Linked DNA regions of Homo sapiens: region 2 is reported to be linked to region 1. The links are microRNA targets in miRTarBase. Many come from high-throughput screens and were not tested one by one. Region 1 holds a microRNA gene; the other region holds the end of a gene's coding sequence.

Evidence for each region. The annotated mature microRNA hsa-miR-6739-5p reads UGGGAAAGAGAAAGAACAAGUA and lies in region 1 at 1,263-1,284, opposite strand. An mRNA with a match to its seed (bases 2 to 7 or 8) in the 3' UTR can be bound and repressed. Matches are read on the target gene's strand: a 7mer-m8 pairs with bases 2 to 8, a 7mer-A1 pairs with bases 2 to 7 and ends in A, and an 8mer does both.
Region 2: miRTarBase lists WBP1L as a target of hsa-miR-6739-5p. Seed matches in the 3' UTR shown: 8mer at 1,409-1,416 and 7mer-m8 at 3,044-3,050.

The regions. Positions count from the first base shown.
Region 1 is chr1:201,861,470-201,864,661 of GRCh38, reverse strand. It overlaps MIR6739 (microRNA 6739), which reads right to left and starts at 1,289; the gene lies at 1,215-1,289. It overlaps IPO9 (importin 9), which reads right to left. Exons shown (of 24, transcript NM_018085.5): 14 at 1,055-1,214.
Region 2 is chr10:102,812,737-102,815,838 of GRCh38, forward strand. It overlaps WBP1L (WW domain binding protein 1 like), which reads left to right. Exons shown (of 4, transcript NM_001083913.2): 4 at 1-3,102. The coding sequence ends at 595. Among named protein-coding and RNA genes, the nearest start is that of CYP17A1-AS1, 18 kb to the right of the region's middle. RefSeq lists an enhancer at 2,684-3,102.

The sequences.
Region 1 (3,192 bases):
CAAAGTACTTTCACATTCATACCAAACTCCTCTCACAGCTTGCAGCTGCAAACATTTCCATAAAATCACAACACAAAGTGGATAATTCTCCAATGAAATCAAGTTTCACTAAGGTCAGAAGCTAAACAGGCAGTGACCACAGGTACAAACTCAGAAAAACCCTTAAAATAACATTCATGCCTTAAGCAGCTTAGGGCTCTCTCTTCTCAGACATTTAAAATGGTGTTAGAGCTTTCTGAAAAAGCTATACTTAGTTTGCCTCTTAAGATGATACTTCTAATTATTTTAGAGCCAAAGATCTGCTTCACCTAGATTGAAGCAGAAAAAGATGGGACGGTGTTTATGGTCATAACATTAACCATTTAATTAAAACAGGCAGTTCTTGAATGCTTTCTAATGACATATAACACACGGCATCTCAAAAGATACTCCTCTGCCTCAAAAGATAAGACAGGGCAGGCACATGGAAAATAAATTTTGTGTTGGTAGTTATAGGATTCAGTTGAGATGTTTAAGTTTGAGCCTAAGATATTCCTTAAAACAACAATGGTCCTTCTAGTCTGCGTAGGAATATAAATAAATGACTTTTGATCCATTAGTAACACTAGCCTTAAAAAAGATAGGTAAAACTGGGAAAAAATAAGCAGTGTTTCTAGGTCACATTATCCCAGATTTGGTTTCTAATATAATCAACCAACAAAATGATGTGGACTCTAATCCTGCTTCTATCATTCATCAATTGTGCAACCCTGTGCAAAACATTTTTCTCTCCAAACCTCAGGTTCTTCACCATTGAGAGAAAGGGAGTTGCCTAGATGATTCCAGAACTGGAGCGAATTTAAAGAGGAAGAGGAGCAGAAAGGAACAGGACATCTTCTGGACTCACAAAAGCCATGTCTCTAGCATGGTTTCTTTCCCTGTCCTTCCAACATTCACCCTGAAGGATATCATTAGCAGGGATTTCCAAGCAACATAATACACTGGAAAACTGTGATTTGTTATATCTAACCTGAGCAACTTTCCCTTAATTATCACGCTAGGGTAGCATACTCACCCCCAGATGGCTCTCACTGCAGAAATTCGAACTGATGGGGGCTGTGTCTCGTGAAGACCACTAACTGTTGCCTGTAGGAACTGCTGGATCAGTTCAGGGGACATAGCAACAGTGAACCGACTGGCAGCCCAAAGTGCCCGGCCCAAGAGGAAAGGAGACACTGGGAGAAAGACAGAACAATTAGGGGCTGGAAAATGAAAATTCCTTTTACTTGTTCTTTCTCTTTCCCACATTCATTCCTCAATTTTTTTTTTTTGAGATGGAGTCTCACTCTGTCACCCAGGATGGAGTGCGATGGCGTGATCTCGGCTCACTGCAACCTCCGTCCCCCGGGTTCAAGCAACTGTCCTGCCTCAGCCTCCTGAGTAGTTGGGATCACAGGCGCCTGCCACCATGCCCGGCTAATTTTTTGTATTTTTAGTAGAGATGGCGTTTTGCCATGTTGGCCAGGCTGGTCTCAAACTCTGGACCTCAAGTGATCTGTCTGCCTCGGCCTCCCAAAGTGCTGGGATTACAGGCATGAGCCACCGCATCCGGCCCTCCATTCCTCAATTTTTTAGAAGTAAATAGATGCTACATAATATGTACAACTCATTTGAGAGAAAAAGCATAACCTTGTATGATGAAAGCAAATGTGTGACCTGTGGTACAAAATCAATTTCCCAGTTTTCCCTTGTCTCTTCTGAGCAAAGTAGATCTTGAATATTATTAGACTAAAAAGACTTTACCACCCCAGTCCTCACCCCCAGCTCTCATTATTCCTTACCTGTACTACTAGTTAATCTTTTTTTTTTTTTTTTTGAGATGAAGTTTCATTCTTGTTGCCCAGGCTGGAGTGCAACAGTGCGATCTCGGCTCACCACAACCTCCACCTCCCTGGTTCAAGTGATTCTCCTGCCTCAGCCTCCCCAGTAGCTGGGATTACAGGCATGCACCACCACGCCCAGCTAATTTTGTATTTTTAGTAGAGATGGGCTTTCTCCATGTTGGTCAGGCTGGTCTCAAACTCCTGACCTTAGGTGATCTGCCTGCCTTGGCCTCCAAAAGTGCTGGGATTACAGGTGTGAGCCATGGTACCCGCCCACTTAATCTTCTAAGTTGCCATCTCCATTGCTAGTTTATTCCCACTTTTGGACCACTCTTTTTTTTTGAGATGGAGTCTTGCTCTGTTGCCCAGGCTGGAGTGTAGTGGCACAATCTCAGCTCACTGTAACCGCTGCTTCCCGGGTTCGAGCGATTCTCCTGCCTCAGCCTCCCGAGCAGCTGGGATTACAGGTGCGTACCACCACGCCTGGCTAATTTTTGTATTTTTAGTAGAGAGGGGGTTTCACCATGTTGGCCAGGCTGGTCTTGAACTCCTGAACTCAAGCAATCCACTCGGCTTGGCCTCCCAAAGTGCTGAGATTACAGGCATGAGCCACCGCGTGCAGCCTTGGACCACTCTTAAAACATAAATTATAGCTCTGATCATGTCATTCTTCTATTTAAAATCTGTCAATTAATTCCATAGTCCACCAAATAAAGATTACCTTAGTCATCACGTTATTCAAGGCTCCCTAAGATCAGTGACTCTAGCATTACCTATGATTTCCCTTTATGGTTTCCAAACTCAAGTACACATCCCTCCTTAGCAACTTACATCTTACTCTCCCAGCTCTCTGCCTTGTTCATATTGCAAGCCAACATATTCACCTCCTTGCATTACCTAATTCATCTCTTAGGCTGAAGCAATTCTAACTATCTCTATGCCACAGTAATTCTGTCTTTAGTGTTCTTACATGTTATATATTTCGTTTGATAGTCTAGCCACTAATGTAAGGATTACTACCCTTGTTTACTATAAGCTGCTGAGGAGAGACTATTCTTATTCAGCTTGTCACAGGGCTTAACTTGTTTACTCACACAATAAACATCTTGTTGACGGAAAACACTGAACAGAACCTAATAAACTGTGCCAGTCAAATTACGCAATACAGATGCTCCTCTGCTTATGATGGGGTTACTTCCTGATAAACACATCGTAAGTTGAAAATACTGTAAGTTAAAAATGCATTTAAATTTAATACTGAACATCACAGCTTAGCCGGGCCTACCTTAAACATGCTCAGAACACTTACATTAGCGTAAAGTTGGGCAAA
Region 2 (3,102 bases), not on the chromosome of region 1:
GGGCATCGATCCCACCAGGGGATCCCAGGGGGCACAGAGCAGCCCCTTGTCTGAGCCCAGCAGAAGCAGCACAAGACCCCCAAGCATCGCTGACCCTGATCCCTCTGACCTACCAGTTGACCGAGCAGCCACCAAAGCCCCAGGGATGGAGCCCAGTGGCTCTGTGGCTGGCCTGGGGGAGCTGGACCCGGGGGCCTTCCTGGACAAAGATGCAGAATGTAGGGAGGAGCTGCTGAAAGATGACAGCTCTGAACACGGCGCACCCGACAGCAAAGAGAAGACGCCTGGGAGACATCGCCGCTTCACAGGTGACTCGGGCATTGAAGTGTGTGTGTGCAACCGGGGCCACCATGACGATGACCTCAAAGAGTTCAACACACTCATCGATGATGCTCTGGATGGGCCCCTGGACTTCTGCGACAGCTGCCATGTGCGGCCCCCTGGTGATGAGGAGGAAGGCCTCTGTCAGTCCTCTGAGGAGCAGGCTCGAGAGCCTGGGCACCCGCACCTGCCACGGCCGCCCGCATGCCTGCTGCTGAACACCATCAACGAGCAGGACTCTCCCAACTCCCAGAGCAGCAGCTCCCCCAGCTAGAGCAGGTCCTGCCAGCACCCAGCAACTTGGCAAAGCAACCAGGGTAGGGGAGAACCACGAGAGAAGCATTAAGTGACTTTCAAAGACTTTCAGAGTACAGCCACTTGGTTCCTTTTTGTTTGTTTTCCTTCTCCTCTCCTGCATTTTCCTCCATCTCCAGGTACAGTTCGGGGTGTGGATGCCTCTTCCTCCACAAGGGCACAGTGTTGTGGAGGGCTAAGTTGGTTCTGTGACTCATTCCTCATACCCTAACTCCATCTCCTTTCTTTAAAGTCAAATCTCACCTACCTGTTTGGGTCAGAGAGATGTGTTTTAAAAGCCCCCAAGGAAGGAGGCTGGGACTGTGCCCTGACATGATTCTTGGTGATGGAATAGGTTTGTGCTCTGATTCTAGTTTAAGAGAACGTTGCTGTATCTCAGTCCAGGAGAGGCAGCCCATCTTGGCCCTGGATGAAGAAGGAAACCCACAGAGGCCCAGGGCTTGTCATTGGGCTGCCAGTGTCTGCCAAGCCAGCATTGAGCTAATCCTGTGGGAGGATGAGAGCTACTGGGCCGTTGTATGATAGGTTGGTAGGGGCTTGTTGATCTGTCAAATTCCAGGTGACAAGATCTATGCACCCCATGCGTCCTTGAGGGGCCTCTTCCCCGCAGGCTCTGGCTGGCCGCAGGCTGGTTCTGGTGTGAAAGGTTATACTGCCTTTTCTTTGTTTGTTTGTTTTTTTCTCTAAAAACAAACAGCAAAAGACAGCTGAAAACAAGAACTTCACCGGTGGGCAGGCAAGAATTCTCTTCTGGAAAATGACGTTTGTGGCTCTTTCCCAAGTTGGCCTTCAAAGAGCCTGCCTGCTGTTGAGCCAGAAGATGTCTCGTGTGAAGGCTGGGGTGGCGGCTGTCTTGGAACCTCTGTGAGCAGGAGGCCCTAAGCCGCAGCAGTGGATAGAGGTGCAGCTCTCTGCCTCTCTGCCCTTTGGTCTGTGTTCACAGGTGACCCGTGTCAGCCTGCATCGCAAGCACACACCCTGCGGGCCTTCAAGTCTCACTGTTCCGTATGAGGAAACAGACAGCGGACTGAGGAAGCGATGGCCCCAGAGAAAGGGCCCCTGTAGCCTGGCTCTCACACAGTATTTTATCTTTGATTCTGAATAAATATTTTTTGTGGGGTTTTTTTTTTTTTTTTGGTGGCAGTTGTTTGTTTTAAACTGACCACTTGGAAGAAACACCTTGGTTATCTGTGGTTTTCATGCCTTGTCCCTGCCTCTACCCCCACCCCTTTTGAGTCGGGTGACTCATTTTTCTGTGTAGAGACTCGGTGGCCCAGGCAGGAGGTGAAAGCAGCCATCCGGAAGGCCCTGGGGACCCTTGTGCCTGTTGCTCGCCTTCAGGTCACCAGCTGAGCTGCGATAGGAAAATCTGAATGGAGGCAGCAAACAGCCAAAACAAACATTCCCCACCCGGCCCTGTGCATATGAAGTCTTTCTTCCCCCAACTCTTGAACGATGATGATATTCAGACGAAGCATTGATGTTATGGAAGAAAGAAAGAAACAAACAAAATATATATATATATGTCCAAAAACAGACAAATCCAAGGGTGTGAGGTAAACGAGTGTCTGCATTTAGATTCCACAAAACCAAAATCCATGTTGAACAAAGTTAAGTCCGTACACAGTGACTTTTTGGGTGAGCCGTGTGTGTCTGTCTGTTGTGTGTGTGCCTCAAGCCCTGTTTTCCTGTGAAGATACTTTGAGTGGCAGCCATTCTCTCCACGTGAACCACACGTCTGGAGCACAGACAGGCCTCTCAAGGTCATTGATCTTACGCATTTACTGTTTACCGAACAAATGTCTGACTGTGTACTCGGGTGTACTCCGCAGCATTGTCGACTGCAGTCCCCTGTGTTTGCCAGAGATACTGTGCTCGAAGTAGAGGTTTTACTCTACTCATCACTGCGATTTGCACATTGCTCCGTGGACACTCGGAGGCCTGCGTTCTGTTCCCTATAAATGGAAGCGTGCTCTGAGCCTGTCTGCCTCCCTCGGCTGCTGCTGGTCCTCAGTACCAGCGCCCGGGGGTGTCCACAACCACTTGGGACAGAAGAAGGTGGAATTTCAGACAGAAGCTTGACTGGGTCTTCAATGACAGGCTTGGACTAGCTGTGGCCCAGACATCGGCCCTGCCCAGAATTGCCAGGAGGAGGCTTTGCAGGCTCTAGAGGAGCCGCAGGGCCTGCCTGCCTCTGGTGAGTCCAACAGGCACAAGCAAGCTGGCGTGTGGCCAGAGGTAGCCGGAGTGTGTCACAGCCCCTCAGATGCCTTTCCTTCCACCTTTTTTTATTTTTTAAGAATCCCAAATAACTCACTGAAGTGTCTCAAAGGCGAACAAGTTTTACCAAAATGAATCCTTTTTCAGTTAACAGATCAAATGGATGAGTTCTGAGCCTCTCAAGTTCCTTTCCCCAGTTAGAGTGGGGAACTGGGCAAGTGTTAACTGTGGGACTCACTGCAGCGT